2 separate regions of the Homo sapiens genome follow, and region 1 is linked to region 2. Evidence: fine-mapped QTL for protein levels in blood plasma. Region 2 holds a variant in brackets. A gene starts in the other region. All regions are shown on their reverse strands.

Region 1 (8,303 bases), not on the chromosome of region 2:
TGTCAAACCCTAGAAATATTACAGAGATCTACTTTTCTGGAAAAGGGTGAGCTCTGTATTGATCTGCAGTGACTCTGTTTAGATATTAAAGTAGGTTCTGAAAAGCGACCTGTGTGGTCCCTCTGATTAGACTAGTTAATGTCTATGTGATGGGCATTTATTTATCTTTATTAGCAAGGTTTAAAAGAGCAAATTATCAAGACACCTATATCTTTTGGCCAGACTATATAATATTTTGTCAGAGTATGTGAAGAGGAGACCCAATTTCCAAATGAAGGAACTTTGCTTTTTCTCTGTCATGTTGAAGAGCTAATATACTGTGTAGATTTTCCCCTAAATATGGCTTTCTTAGCTTTATAGATGTTGAGATAATATCTTTTGAGGAACACATGTCAAGCAGGAACCTTGGCATAGATTTGGTTTCAGTTGTTTTAAGGCTTAATTAATGAAATGCCTTAATCAGCTTTCCAAACATTTTTATATATGAATACAGCAGACCAAGGAGCTGGATCTCCTGCTATCCTTACACGCCTTGTATCTATCAACTAAAGCTGTCATTAATGACTTGGGCAAAATGGCAAGAGGTATAATAAAGTCTTCCTGTGAATTAGCCAGTAGGGTCTGACACAACTAGTCAACTAACAAGGTTCCTGACTAGTACCTCAGTATTTCAGCACCTTAAGCACTGATAAATTTCAATCAGTCAACAATAAAGTGAGTGTTCCAACTAGACTTGTTGTCTTGCTTGTTCTTACTGTTTGGTGATTAATAGAAAATTCAATAATTATGACAGTTAATAGTATAATTCAAATGAGATTTACTTTATTTTTCAAATAATCTGAATTTTAAAAGTTTTTTTTCATTTGTACTTGAATAGCAATGGAATTTTTTAAATGCCGTTAGGGATAAGGACAATTCTTAGACATGTTTTACAGAAACCTACATTTTTGGAAAAGGATGAATGATCTTTGATAAATTTAATCAATCCAGAGGTGAAAGTAGATCCTGAAGGATGATCTATCTCATGTATAAGACTAGCTAGTAGATGTCATTGAGACTTAGGCATTTCATTACAATAGTGATGGCATCTTTATGACATCTCTAGGAAAATGTAGTAGTATATCAACCCTAGAGGGTAACTCCAAAACTTTGAAGCTGAAGAATAATTGCTCTTGCAATTCTGGTGATCTAAAACAGTGAACTAAGCTACATAGAGCTGTTTGGTTTGATCTTGAGTTTCTCCAAGTCTCCAGGTTCATGATGCATATCATCATCATTTCCAAATCTCAGAGTTTCCTCAAGAGAGGGCAACCACATTTGTAACTGTCTTCTTTCTGTCAATTAAGTGTGTGTATTAATTACTAGGGCTAGGTCTTTTCATTCCTTTGCACGTTTTAAGCAGGAATAGATGAGGCAAAGCCCATTTGTAGGTTATTTTTTAGTTTAACTATGTTAAATTAAACTATGTTGGTCAGGCTGGTCTCAAATTCCCGACCTCGTGATCCACCCACCTTGGTCAACCAAAGTGCTGGGATTATAGGCGTGAGTCACCACGCCTGGCCCAACAAAAATTTTTTTTAAATTTGCAGGGTGTTGGCCAGGCGCAGTGGCTCACGCCTGTAATCCCAGCACTTTGGGAGACCGAGGCGGGTGGATCACAAGGTCAGGAGATGGAGACCATCCTGGCTAACACGGTGAAACCCCGTCTCTACTAAAAATACAAAAAATTAGCTGGGCGTGGTGGCGGGCGCCTGTAATCCCAGCTACTCGGGAGGCTGAGGCAGGAGAATGGCATGAACCGGGAGGCGGAGCTTGCAGTGAGCCGAGATAGCGCCACTGCACTCCAGCCTGGGCAACAGAGCGGGACTCCGTCTCAAAAAAAAAAAAAAAAAAATTTGCAGGGTGTGGTGGGACGCACCTGTGATCCCAGCTACTCTGGAGGCTGAGGTGGGAGGCCATGAAGGTCAAGGCTGCAGTGAGCCATGATGGCACAACTGTGCTCCAGCGTGGGTAACACAAGACCCTGTCTCAAACAACAAAAATAAACAAAAAATTTATTTTCGAATTTGTCTTTGATCTAGGTTAGTTATTAGATCTGAAATTCTGAAACTACTGTCATAAACCTTATCTACAGGGGAAACAATGTTGAAGGTCAATAGGCTACTCATCCTTTTTGCTTTCAGAGGCATTATGTCATTTAATCTTTACAACAGACCTATCGTAATTATTATCATCAGCATTTTACAGATGATCAGAGATTCGTTTTTACATGAGGTAAGAAACACATAAAATTTACTATCATAACCATTTTTAAGTGTACAGTTCACTAGATTTAACTATATCCACATTGTTGTTCATTTGTATAATTTTGAAAGTTTATGGCAGCGGTTCAGAAATAAAATGTCTCACCACAGTCAAATATAATCTGGTAATTTGAAACTTCAAATGTTATAAATGTATTAGAAACTGTTGTATTATTTCTAATGGCAGGGTAGTAATAAGGATTATAGTTCATGAATGTGGTAATTAGCCAGAAATTCATTTTCTTTTTGCCTATGTTCTTCTCATTAATCATATTTTACCCTTTGGCTTGTATTTATGACATGGACTTATTTGGAGTCTTACATTGAAGGCATAGGTCTGATCCATAGTATTATTTCACCTCCCAAAGATTGAAAAGAAAATAACAGTTGGATTCCAGACATCTGACATCAACCTGATTTGAAAGTTCCATATAGGCACAGTTTAGACAGAGCTACTGAATTTAAATTAGTAAGAGCTGAAGAAAAGCTAAGCATAAAATGGACAGAGCCCTTCCCAGGGTAGCAGACATAAGCAGCAATAAATCAGTAAGTACTAAAACACAGGATCACTTTATTCTGGCTTTCTGCCATTTATAGACACTCAAACTTGGAATGAGCAGAAATCCTTTTGAACTTATATTTGCAAAACCTTGTGTCCATTCTTTTATCTTCCGGATTACCTTTATTTTTTTCTGTTTATTTCCTCATACCATCATCTATGCTCTGTTGGGTGCAGAGTCTGCTTAGATATCTTTGAGTGGCCCTGATTTGCATGTGGTAGCTTGCTTACCCAGAGAAAGGTACTCGGGATCGAATTGGATGCAGTTTAGCTGTGGCTCAGTAGAGGGAGTAGAGGAGCTGAGGGAGGGGGGAGAGCGAAAGAACGGGTCTGGTTAAGTAAGTGTTGTGTGTGAGCACCAGGAGGAGGGGGGCAGGGTGGGGAGTGGTTGCCTCTAGCAGCTCCACCCTCACTTTGTCAGCAGGTAGAGAGCGTGATTGCAGTCCCAGGGGAGGGAGTCAGAGCTAGAACACCAATTACAAACCACAGGCTTCCTGCTCTAGGGAGTTGATCCAGAATTGTCTTTCTGAAAGGAAGCACTCGGAATCCTTCCGAACTTTCCAAGTCCATCCATGATTCAGAGATACTGCCTTCTCTCTCTCTGGGATTTTATGTGTTTCTGATAGTGAATTGTTGATGTATTTGCTACTTTGCTTCTTTTCTCTTTCAAGACTTGATCATTTTATATGCTGTTTGGAGAAAAAAAGAACTTTTGTTAGCAAGGAGGTTTCAGAAATGATTTTGGATTTTCTGTAAGTGTTTAATTTAGTTCTAGGGGACAGCATCTCTCATCCCGGAGTAAATTTCTGCCTTTGACCTGCATGGATTATTTTTTCAGGCTGCGGAATTTCTCGGCACCTACCTGTAGTATGGGGCACTTGGTTTGGTTGCAGAGTAAGAAGGTGGAAGAATGAGCTGTACTTGGTTAAGCAGTTGAAACCTTTTTTGAGCAGGATCTGTAAAAGCATAATTGAATTTGTTTCACCCCCGTGGATTCCAGTGGGCCCGACAGCGCAACAGGTTTGCAGATTTCTTTTGAAATTCCTTTTTCCCCCCTCCCTCTGCCTCAGCAAAAGAAAAGAATCCATATAACAGGTTCATGTTCAATTGCTTGGCTTTTCAGCACTTATTCTGAAGACTTTATAATATTTTTAAACTTGACCTTGGAACACAGAGGGCTTTGTGGGTGAGGTGTATTTATATTTACTTAAGGGTGCACATTTTAAAAATCTTATTCTGTGTTTGTACAAAGACGCAAATTTTCATAGTGCCTAGAAATAGCACAGATCTATTCTACTCAAGATTATTTGTATTTTTTCAGGGTATTCTACCTAGAGCCTGTGGTTAATCGCCTCCCTGCTCCCCCTACCTTTTATTCCCTACCCCCTCAGGGAATTTGGATACATGTGAGGAATAGTCCTTTGTTTTTCTTATGAACCTAGAAAATTACAGATCATAAAATCTGGATATTAAAGTAGTTTCCAAAAGCATCTCATGGGAAATCAAAGTGCTCGGCATTTCCGAGCTGGAGAATAAAATCAAGAATCCTTAAGAGAGAAAAGAAAATGGAGATGGAAATATGAATTTTAACTGGGAAAAATAATTGGAAAGCTAACCTTTTCAAATACTCTAATTATGAAAGTTGGAAAAGGTTGTGATGCTCAGGATTATCCTGTAATGTGTGAAGATACATAAATTAGCACCTAATTTATAGGCAAATTTTGGTAAAACACAAAAAATTATGGTATGTCTAAGTTCATGAAAAGTATGTAAATGCAGTGGGCCTAGAAACCTGGCCACACTGAAATACAGTTTAATGTGGAAACTTTTCTAAATACATATTGTAGCATCTTTGGACATCAACGTGTGGCCTGAAATTTTTATTATTGTTCCCTCTTCTCCTCCATTAAAAAAAAAATCTCCTTGTGGTATTTAGTCATTTACCATTAACACATATTATGGCTTAAAAAGGGCCATCCCTTCCTTTTCTGAGCTGGAGTTCTTCACGCTCACCTTTGATGCATGGCCTTAGCTGTTTACTTTGCCTTGTTTTGTTCATGAACATTGGGTTTAGTGCCTGGCAACTTGATGCATATGGAAGAGCAATGCCAAGTGATCTGACATAATACAAATTCACGAAGTGACATTCAATCACAAGCAAAGTTGGAAATTCCAAAGAGAAGTGGTGAGATCTTTACTAGTCACAGTGAAGATGGGAGAAAATGACATACCTGCAGCAGATGTGGGCTGAAAATATCCTCTTCTCTGCCCAATCAGGAATGCTACCTGTTTTTGGGAATAAACTTTAGAGAAAGGAAGGGCCAAAACTACGACTTGGCTTTCTGAAACGGAAGCATAAATGTTCTTTTCCTCCATTTGTCTGGATCTGAGAACCTGCATTTGGTATTAGCTAGTGGAAGCAGTATGTATGGTTGAAGTGCATTGCTGCAGCTGGTAGCATGAGTGGTGGCCACCAGCTGCAGCTGGCTGCCCTCTGGCCCTGGCTGCTGATGGCTACCCTGCAGGCAGGCTTTGGACGCACAGGACTGGTACTGGCAGCAGCGGTGGAGTCTGAAAGATCAGCAGAACAGAAAGCTATTATCAGAGTGATCCCCTTGAAAATGGACCCCACAGGAAAACTGAATCTCACTTTGGAAGGTGTGTTTGCTGGTGTTGCTGAAATAACTCCAGCAGAAGGAAAATTAATGCAGGCAAGTATAACTTTATTATATTTCACTTTCCATCTGTTTGAAATATGTCTTTCTTCTTTTGTCTCCCAAATGAAATACCATACACGGGCTTCTACTGCTTAGCTTTCTATTTCATAGAAAGAGTAGATACTGCCTTATTGGCATTCTAAATTTAGCAAATTATTATTTTATACTCTGGAGGAAATACATAAATCCTATATTTTAGAAGATTATCTGCTTATTTTAAACTGGTGTTGCATAACTACTTAGATAGACATAATAATACCTTTTTTTCAAGTGATATATTCTGGGCACTAATTTTTGATAGATGAAATATATGAGCTTATATTTAATTGATGCGAGGATTGTATTTTACATCCTGTTTAAATTGAAGTAAGCACTAAGAAGGTTGATTTTAATGGTCAGCAGCACCTGAAATTCTGGAATGCCCTTGGAGCATATTTGATTACTGTGTCACTTAAAATTCAGTCAAGCTTGAATGCTATGGCTGGCCTTACACCACGTGTGGCACCCTATTGCTAACCCCAAAATGGAGAGGACTGGATTACAAAATGGACACAAGGTGTAAACCTGCCTCCTGATCACTTTGGCCTTGTCCACACATAATTTTATCATTTTCAGGAATTTAAATTTAACATGTTTTTTACTGATCCGCCAAGTTTTTCAGACATAGTTTCTTAGGCTTTCAGGCTGTGAATTTTGCCTGTAAGTCATTCATACATGGCCTATTCTTTATGTGGTGAATTTATGAAATGACTGGGGGCACAGCATTTCATAGACCAATTGCTCATTCCCCATAGTAAAGACAGAGCCTAGAGGGCTATACCTTTTTAATGGGCATTCCATTGTCTTACTCCATAAAATGATGTTGCTTATTGATTGAAATTTATCATGTAAAAGAACACTTCTTGCTGTAGCTACTGGACACAGGTTAAAATATTCTTAAGTGTGATCCATCTTAGCATCCAAACTCAAATTTTAATTTTGTGGTATGAACAGACTATGAACAGAACCAATTTATTGTATGAATTTTAATTTTTGTCTACTTAAAGAAGATAGGAAAATTTAACAGATTATAGAACTTATTCCTAAACATGTATTCTTTAATATATGGTTTAGTGGTTATTCATTATCACTTCTTAGGCAATATTTTGAAGCTGGGATAAATGAAGTGAAGGAGAATTAGGTGAAAATGGAAGGCTTTGCTATTTAGAAAAATAGGAAAGAAGAGTATATCTGGAAAAATGGCATAAGATTTTTTTGAATAAGATAATTTGGATTCTAAAATGGAATTAGGAATACTTAAAAGCTGAACTCATAAATCATCTTGAATACTATGGCAATTGGAAAGGAAACTTCCTTCCTGGCCTTGCCTAGTTAATACCCTGAAGCATGAATTGTGTGCTCCATTTTAGGACCGTAAGTAATTTTGCTAGTCATATTTTGATATCACTGAAGTTTTTGAGAGCCATACGTGCCTTATTGATAACCTGTGATAGCATGTTCAGTGGGCTAATTATGTGTTCCATAAAATAATGTATTCTTTTAAGTTTTAATCTTATTATCATAAAGCTCTACATAAAGTTTGTGTTTTCATAAAGGAAAAAGTAAACAAACAGCACCAGTTGGCATTCTCTTTGCCATTCATTATTTTATCAATCTTTATCATGTCTTCTATTGTTCTATCGTTTTTCTCACTCTGGCAAATCTTACCAATCTATTTTGTTTTTTAAACTATTAACTTTGATCCTATCATTATACATTAAGTATTGCTTTTACTTTGTGAAGAGGGAATTTCATCATAACTTAGCAAAGACTTTCAGCCTTTACAGTGGATAGTTTTATGTCATTGGCAATTTTTAGTCATCTCCTTTCTGTCCACATATGCTTCGTTTAGGTCTTTAAATAAGTTTTTTCACTAGCTTAGTATTCATTTCTGGATACTTTCCATATTGGTTTCGGTTTATTGTCTGTTAATCAATTTTTAATCTACAACAGTTATTAAAGTTTTTCAACAGCCTCTTGTGAGAAACTTTTTTAAAAAACAAGCTTCTGAATTATATATATGGTTTTCTTTATCCATTCTTTGATTAATTCTTTCAAAGAACTCTAGTGTGTTAGGGACACATGGTTTACACTTCTGGAATCCATGCTGTTTGTTCCTTATCAGATTACACTGCAACTCAGGTTTACTCAACTGTGGTTAGCCAAGCCTTCCATTTAACTGAAGTTCTGTTTATATCTTCTAGAGATGTGCTTTGCTGAACTTTAGCTTTCTCAATGGAGAGCTGTACCCTGGTGTCAGAAATCTAAAAGTAGTCTTCTCTTCGGTTTTGAGGAATTCTGGATAATTCTGTGAATCCTTCTACCTATGAATTGTTGTAGTTACCTGTTAAGATTATTTGTCTCCAAAGATTGCAGTCAAATCTTTTTAAACTTGAGGATGCTATGTATGTACCAAAAAATGTACAGTTATGAGAACAGTGATTTAAAAAAAAAAAAACCATGTTGTTATTTCTGGAATTCTGAGATAATTTCTGAAAATCAGACATTTCTTTACATTTTGCTCAATTAATTCAGTGTATAGACAATTTCATAAGGACCAAACTGACTGAATTTTCATTTGTATTATGATTTTAATTTTTTCTTAGACAAAAGGAGACCCCCCCCCTTGACAATGTGCCCCCAATTTGTTGAATAGTAAAATAGACCATAGAATTGCCTCTAAAA
Region 2 (8,342 bases):
GTGATCCATTTGTATTTTCATATCCATATCCTTCTCCTGCTAACCAAATCCAAAGGCAAAACTTCATACTTAATATCTTCTATTGAATGAACTTGGAATCTCAAACACAAAATATCCAGAATTTTTTTAAAAATTATTAACTTGACCTCAGATCTGTACCTCTTTTTGGGATTCCAATGTAGGTGAACTCACATATTTAATAAACATGTATTAAGTCTTTCCTTAGTGCCAGGCAGCATTTTGGGCAATGACAAGACAGAAAACAACAACAACAATAAACAGTCTCATGGAGGTTGGATCTCAACAGGGGAAACCCAGTGAATAGAGTCACTAACTATAAAGAAACATCTTCATGTGGCTGACCCCACCCTGACAAGTTCGCCACTCTAGGGATCTGAGGCCAATTGCTGACAGCTGAGAGACATGCATTTCTATAATTCTGAAGAATGGATTGACTTGTTCATAAGTTGATGATGTTATTTGAATACATGTGTTAAATATAATCCTGCTTCAACGGAAAGAGGTCAATCTCCTTGGCCTCACAAATGGCTGGGTTCCTACTGTAGGGCAGAAATAAAACAGAACATTCCCATGATGCAGAAGAATTCCTAAGGGGAACCAGATAACTGAGTATGAGGAGGGAACTTCATTATCAGATAATCTCCCTACTGCTCTGTTTGTGATGGAGACAGAGCAGCAGAGACACCACAGGCCTGGAGGCCCGCCCTGAGAAGGAGGCAAGGATGAAAGGAGGTAAAGAGAAGGGTGGATAAAAATGCCTGGGAGGGAGCTGGACAAACTGCAAATTAGTGTGCCCTGAAATCAGGCACCTAAGCGCTGACACCTCCCCTCTCGTGGTTTCTGATGTAGCTCCGGGGAGGTTTGATCACGAGCTTTAACAGCAGTCCTTTAGTGTGTAAGGCATCATCCCATGTTCTGTAGAATGTTCTGTCCTGACCCTCAGTGCTTTTGCTCCATACAAAGGAGCCAGGTCTCTCTCTGGGTGTGAAAAGTGATGTTCGAAATGAATCTCACTGAATACGAGGGAAGGGCAGCAATGAGTCCTGAGTCCCAGGAGATATCCAAAGAAAAAAGGTGTGTGAGACACTCAGTAACGGCAAGAGGATGTTGTCAGGTTTATATCACAGGAACAAGCTTTGGGCCTCAACCTAGTGACCTCTTTCCTTTGGTCTTACTCACCATGGTGTGGGTCACGCATATTTCACCACCTCAGCTGCTTCATCACTTGCTGGAGACCTCATCTCTCATGTGGAGAAAGCTACCGTCTCCTAATTAGACCCTCCACTTTCACTCTCTCCCCTCCTTTTTCATCTTCTTTGGAGAAGCTGGACTTTTCTCCTAAGTCTCCCATCAGACTCCGTGTCTTCCTTGCTTACAACTCCCTAAGGGCTTCCTATTGCTCTCCCCCTTCTGGCCAGTGTCACCTCTTGGATACACCACAATATGCCTTACTCCTATTGACTTGTTGGCCCTCACTTTTCTGCATGGTGTCAGTCCTGTGAAGACAGAATCCCTGTCTGTCTTCTCACCTCTGTATCCTTAGCATGAGACCTGAGCCTGGCACATAGTAGGTATTCAGTAAACAATAAGGACAAACAGAGATCTTTATTAGTGCACATGCCTGAGACAGACCCAGCTGGATTCTGTCCCTGCTTGCCCTGGCCTATCATGGCTGTATTCCCAGGGCAGCCTGTTCCAGAAATCAAGGACTTTCTGATTCTTCTGAGGCAGTCTGACAATGCTGTGGCCAAGGGCTCTCTCTGAAGTCTGGCCCTGAGAAAACAAAGCAGCATTCTCTAGATCACTGTCCCTAATCTGAGCCCTGGGTCCTGGTTAGCAGAAGCACCAGCAAACATGCACACAAATGGTAAACAGCCCTGCTGTCCTGGTTGTATGGTGCTGTAGTTAGGTCGTGCTCCTAGGAGACCTGACATGTTCCTGTCTCACTCCCCCAGACTGCAGCACTGTTTGGGCCTCCAGGGGGCTGTCTGAAGCCAACAGTTGAGATCAGCGTTGTCCTCAGCCTGGAGCCCAGAGATGCTTGGGAAGGCCTCCTTGCCAAACTGGTAGCCCGAGCATCCATCCTGGGTCCCTGCAGGCAGATATTTGCTTCTATACATCAGAAGTTTGGAGGCACTTCCTTGTCATTGTTGGTACCAGGACACAATTCCAAGAACCTTATTGCTGCTGATTCCAGTGCAGGAGATGGTGACTGGTTTTGTCACAGACAGACTGTGCAGGCTACCAAGTGAGCCCTGACTGCCCAGGACCCTGAGAGTCAGGAGAGAGGCACAGGGTGTGGGAGGAGGCATAAAGATGTGTAAAACCAGAGAGAAAAAGCACAAGGTATGACCCCCATTGTGGAAATATTGAGAACAAAAATGAAAGAATGCATCCAAATGAAGAAATTGGATTGTTTCTGATGAGACAGCTTTGCAGTGAACTTGGTGGTTTTTAATATTTTTATTTTATATAATAGGCATGTATTGGTTTGAAAGTAAATCAATAAAGCAAATTTTAGTCATATACAAAAAAAGAGTTTCTTCTCTTTGCTCTTAGCTCAGAAAGCCTATACACTGAAGATGCTTCTTTCTGGAGGTATTGGTTTGAAAGTAACTCAATAAAACAAACTTCAGTAATATGCAAAAAAAGTTTCTTTGCTCTTAGCTCAGAAAGCCTATACACTGAAGATGCTTCTTTCTGGAGGAAATGCATTTTGACCCAGCCTTTATATGTGATCCTGCTGTTAGTGTTCCTTTTAGAATAGAAAACAATTAACTTTTCCTTTTTTTTTTTTGATCCAGTTACTCCCAAATCATTCTTACATTTCCTACACATCAAGACTTAAGTAGAAATAGGAATCAATTCAAACCCTTTCCTTCCCCTTTCTATGGCTGGTCCACATGTAGGCTATCTTGGGATCTGGCATGTCTGATCATGTGATCTCCACATCACAAGGGCCGAGGGAGGTTTATGTCTTGGTTCCTCTCATGGGTCTGTCACTGTGCCGAGCACCACTATAGGAGAGCAAGCAGTAATACTCAGCCTCATCCTCAGGCTGCGCACCCAAAAGGGTCAGGGCAGCTTTGCCCCCAAGGAGGGAGCCTGAGAACCGGGCAGGTGTCCAGGAGTGTTTGTTGCTTGTATCATAAATCAGTGTCCTGGGGGCTTGGCCAGGCTTCTGCTGGAACCAGTAGGGATAATGACCACTGGTGACAGCTCCAGTGCTGGAGCCACAGGTGAGAGTGACTGTCCCTCCTGGGGACACAGTCAGTGAGGGCTCCTGAGTCACCACAGCCTGGGAATTGGACCCTGAAACAAAAAAAACAGACATATATTAGGAATTAGAAAGGGAGAAAAAGGGATCCCTCCAAAGGCTGGTATTTGAAATCTCTCTTAACCTGGGCAGCAAGTGAGGAGGAACAGAAAGAGAGGAGTCCAGGCCATGGTGCTGATATTGGAAGGGACCCCTGGTGCCAGAGCTGGGGCTGGATTCTGATGGCTCTTTATCTCCTATTGAGCTCTCCGCACGGAGGGGGTGTGCTGTGTGCTGCTTTATGCAAATCTTTACTGCCTTTATCACCACCTGGGTCCACAGCCCTGAGAGCAGCTACACTGTGGGGGGCCAGCCCAGGGTGGCTGTGTGCTGTGGATTTGTCCTGTGGGAGGAAGCAGCTGCTCTAACATTTCCATGAGTCAGTGAGCATCTGTGCAGGGTTCATTAAGTTTGAACCTCTTGAGCTTCTTACAATCCAAGAGACCCAGACCACCCCCTGGTGGCTTTCCTGGACTGAGAATGTGTTGTCTTTCACTTCTTTAACAAATAACTATTGATTTGTCTTTGGACATTGCCACAATATTTCCCAGGCCAATTCATACCCATTACTTGTCTATTCTTTGCTCATTCCTGTTTGTATTACTTTCTCTTGCTGTTGCTGAAATCCTGCCCCTGTGACTATAATGCGATTTTAGTGCTACATGGTGTTCGTTGCTATCTGAACACCAGATAACAACGTTTGAATGACTAAATATTTAGTTTGAATGACTAAATAATTGTTTTAATGACCTACTGACTTTTTGAAACTATTTGCGTTGAGCCTCATATTGGATAAACAGCTCGTTTATATGAGACTTTTTAAAATAATTTTCTTTAGAAAATTTTTTAAAAGAAAATGACCAAAGGTTGAAGATTGAAGTTTTATTGTCAATTCAGTGGAAACTCAAGTGAGCCATGAGGATGGTCATCAAGGTCTACATAACAACCCCACTCTCACCCACCCCACCA[A/C]TCAAAATTTTTCTGGACACCAAGCCTGGGTGAGCTTTGCTGGTTGGCAATGCTTCCTACATAGAATCACACATTGTTGCCGGCAGAATGCAGCGTTGTCTATTACTCCACTGGGAGAGGACAAATGGATGCTTGTGCTTGGAATTCTCCTGAACTCTGCCCATGTGTCTCTTTCCTTGAATTATTTTAATCTGTATTATTTCACTGTAGAAAAATCACATTAATGAATGTCACAGTTTTCAGTGAGTCATGTGAGTCCTTCTAGGGACTCATAAGAAGTGAAGGGCTGTTTGGGGTCCCTGAGCTGAAAATTAGCTTCAGAATTGAGAGTGCTCTTGGGAATCTTCAGACCTCCCAGTTTCCAATCTTGCATTATTCTTTTTTTTAACTTCAAAACAAATTTTATTTAGAAAGAGTTTTTCATGTTGTTGATGATGCAAGCAAACTTTTTTCACAATTACACTTCTAGAGATCTAGTAGTTTCAGAGATCTAAGTCTTCAAAGGTATGTTTTAAAATTAATAACAAAACCAAATCCACACCGACAAGAAATCACTTTTTGCTTGGTTTGGAAGGGACAGCCATTGATACCAGGTGTTCTCAGAAACGGGCTCACCACTTCCTTGGAAAACAGATAGCATGGAATCAGTGTCCACAGAAGGAAATGTCTTTAAATATGTTTGTTTTTGGGACAAGGTTATTTATTCCTGGAAAATGCAGTAAGATAAAAAGTCCCAGCTGGCAAGGTATGCAGTACAGCACCAGTTTTACAGAGGGATTACAAGATCTTGGGATCAGTAGCTGTTGGCTTATGGCACAGAATATGAGCAGTCACTGGAAGTGGAAGAAGAATGATGATGAGCAGGGAGTCTCTCCCAGTCTTATTCAGCCTTTTCACTTGCTAAATGGATAGGCTATGTTCTGTAGCATCTTTGGGAAAACATTTGAGACAGTTCAAAAAACAACAACAACTACAGAAGCCGTCCAGTATCATTCCCCAGAAAGTCCATATTTGAAAAGAAAGAGGGACCTGTTCAGGGTTCCCATGGAGGACTGTGCCTCCATCCACTTCTGTCTCCAGGAGATACAAGACATCAGCCAGAGTGTGCTCTACCACAGCATCCCAGCCCATGTCACTCATAAGGGAGTAAGCGAGATCCTTTGGAGGACACTCGCAGCACAGTCCAAAGTTAATGCAAACCATGCAGTTGTTTTCCTGTGAGATGGCTGGAAATCAACCCCCTCAAAAATACCTTTTATTCAACATATTAATTGACACCATTTTTATAAAATATTATTTGCCTGTGCAGAATCTGTTTTAGGCTCTTCTGTGCTTTATCCAAAATGTCTTTTTCCTCAAAATACAAATAATTCTTGTATTTTATCAAAGCCTTATCTTTGTAAGTATCAGGCAATAACTTGGCTGTCTCTGTGTTTTCAGGAAGATTAATATAAAATCCCAAGACCTGTCCTCATCCGTAGCTAGAAGAGTATTATTTGCCAGTGGACAGGTGGAACTTGGTTCCCTTTTGCTCTGCCAAGAATAGCTAAGTTTATCATAACCTAAGGGAGATTGATGGTTACCTTAGGACTGAGACCAACCCCATTGGCAGTGGTGTCTGGTGACAACTCATCCTTGATGATTTCAAAGTCCCAGGTCCCTTTCCATACCCCATGAGAGGCCTGCATCATAGAGTAACCCTTCTTTCCAACCACAGTCAGCCAGCTGGTCATTGGAGATCTTTACCTGGAGAGCTTAATCATGTTAGACTAACAAAACCTGTTCACAGAAACAGGCTCCGTAGAGGTCTTCAGGAATAATTTCTCCTGCCTAGCAGTCTTCAACCTTCTGAGGACCAAGGGTGTGTGGCTCAGGCTCGGTTGGAATATACCAGTAGCCATCCTTGTTAAATGGGTGTTTTAAAAGGTGTAAGGGGCAAGGCGCTGAGCAGAAAACAAAGGGTCACTCTGGGCCTTCTTGGTGGTCTCTGAGATCTCATCTTGCTGTTTGCACTGAACTCCTCTTCCTCTTTTCTGCTGCTTCCTGTTCAGTTGCCCCATTCAGATTCCCACTCACAGACAGGGCACTGCTTTGCTTTTGCTTGTCATAAACAGGATCAGTTTTACCAAAGTCCTGATCCAAAAGTCCAAATCTTGGGCAATCTTCTTTCAGGTCTTTACTCCCTGGATCCAGGAGGTCCTTTACCAAGAATAAATCTCTCTCTTTACTCATTGTTTTAACGATGTTATCCAGCCTAGTCATTTTCCCAGGTGTCTGAATGGTCATCATGCACTCCCAGTATTTATCAATAAATGCTATAGCATTCATCCTGTGTTTGGGACTGCCATGCCAGCTTAACCAAAGCACTATGAAAACTGTAGTTGGTCATGAAAGGTAGACAGGATGACATGTCTTTGCCAGATATATCAACTATGAGCCATTTTCATAGGACAGCAGATGTCCCTCTCCAGCTGGAGAGGCTGCTACCATTGCCACCAGCTTCATCTCCCCTTCTTTGGCCATAGTTGCACTAGAGGCTGCTCCTGGACTGGGTCAGGCACCCACCCCTACCATCATGGCCATTCTCAGACTTTCTCATGTTATTTTGTGTCACCTGTAATGAGGTACCTCCAACTCTATTGGTCTGTTAGGATGCTGTGGGGCTGGCACAGAAGGAAGGGTGTCCTGGCTACTCAGGCACACTCTCCTAGTCCTGTATATTTTTATTGTTCTTGTAACTGCACCAAATATAAATCTTTTTGTTTTTGACAGTGGTAAATTATTCAAACACAAAACACATATTTTAACCATTTTCAACCACACGCTTCAGTGTCATTAAGTAAAGTAATATTGTTGTACAGTCACGTACCACCATTCGTCTCCAGGAATTTTTCATCCTCCCAAACCAAAATTTCATGCCTGGAAAACATCATTCTACTTCTTGTCTCTATGGATTTCACTACTCTAGGTACCTCATATAAGAGCAAACAGACAACATTTGTCCTTTTGAAACCAGCTTATTTCTGTTGGCATGATGTCTTTAGGGTTCATCCATGCCATCGCATGGGTCAGAACTTTCTTTTTAAGGTTGAATACTATTCCCTTGTGTGTGTATACTATATTCCGTTTATCCATTAGATGACACTTGGGCTGCCTCCACCTTTTAGCTATTGTGAATGATGCTGCTACGAACAAGGGTGGACAATTTTGAGATCCTGCTTTCAATTCTTTGAGGCACATGCCCAGAAGTGAAAATTCTGATAAAATGGTAATTCTATGTTTAGTTTTCTGAGCAACTGTCATCAAGGCCACCTCAGTGGATGCATCATTTTATAGTCCCTCCAGCAATGCATTACAGTTATAATTTCTATACATCTTTGCTACAACTTATTATTTTCCATTATTTGGGTAAAGCCATCCTAATGGGTGTGGGTCCCGATTTTGTTTTGGGTTGTTTCCTATTTGCTCAAGTATTGAAATGTAAGAGATTTTCTTTCTTTCTTTCTTTCTTTCTTTCTTTCTTTCTTTCTTTCTTTCTTTCTTTCTTCCTTCCTTCCTTCTTTCTTTTCTTTCTTTCTTTCTTTCTTTCTTTTCCTTCCTCCTTTCTTTCTGTCTTTCTTTCTTTCCTTTCTTCTTTCATCTCTCTCTCTCTCTTTTTGTAGAGACAGGGCCTTGCTTTGTTGCCCAGGCTGTTCTTGAACTCTTGACCACAAGCAGTCCTCCCACCTCAGCCTCTCAAAGTGTTAGGATTATATGCATGAGTCACCATGCCCAGCCATGAGATAATTTTACATGGTGATTTTTGTATTCAGAAATATTACCGAATACATTTAATCATTCTGACAAAGTTTTCTTTTGTGGGACTTTTAAGGGTATTCTACATATGACATTAAATCAAATGAAAACAGAGATAATTTTACTTTTTATTTCTAATTTTTATTCTGTTTATTTCTTTCTCTTGCCTAATTACTCTGGCTAGGTCTTCCAATACTGTCTTAATAGAAGTGGTGAAAATGTGCATTGTTGCTTTGATCCT

Direction of the effects. Alleles are on the strand shown, and positions count from the first base shown. The strength of an association depends on the size of the effect and on how common the allele is.
In carriers of allele A in region 2, the plasma level of the protein whose gene starts at base 3,365 in region 1 tends to be lower than with C alone (strong association).

Evidence for each region. PIP is the posterior inclusion probability: the model's chance that the variant is causal. The UK Biobank Pharma Proteomics Project read protein levels with antibody pairs (Olink). The fine-mapping took linkage between variants from a reference panel, not from the people measured, so its PIPs are less certain.
Region 1: it holds the start of RNF43, and the variant in region 2 is fine-mapped to the plasma level of the RNF43 protein (UK Biobank, PIP above 0.99).

Annotation. Positions count from the first base shown.
Region 1 is chr17:58,412,596-58,420,898 of GRCh38, reverse strand. RNF43 (ring finger protein 43) reads left to right here and starts at 3,365. Exons shown (of 10, transcript NM_017763.6): 1 at 3,365-3,882; 2 at 4,937-5,573. The coding sequence starts at 5,322. It overlaps HSF5 (heat shock transcription factor 5), which reads left to right. Exons shown (of 6, transcript NM_001080439.3): 6 at 1-732.
Region 2 is chr22:22,364,774-22,373,115 of GRCh38, reverse strand. It overlaps IGL, the pseudogene ASH2LP2 and IGLV7-46. Among named protein-coding and RNA genes, the nearest start is that of VPREB1, 120 kb to the right of the region's middle. The variant A/C (reference allele first, on the strand shown) is at 4,307.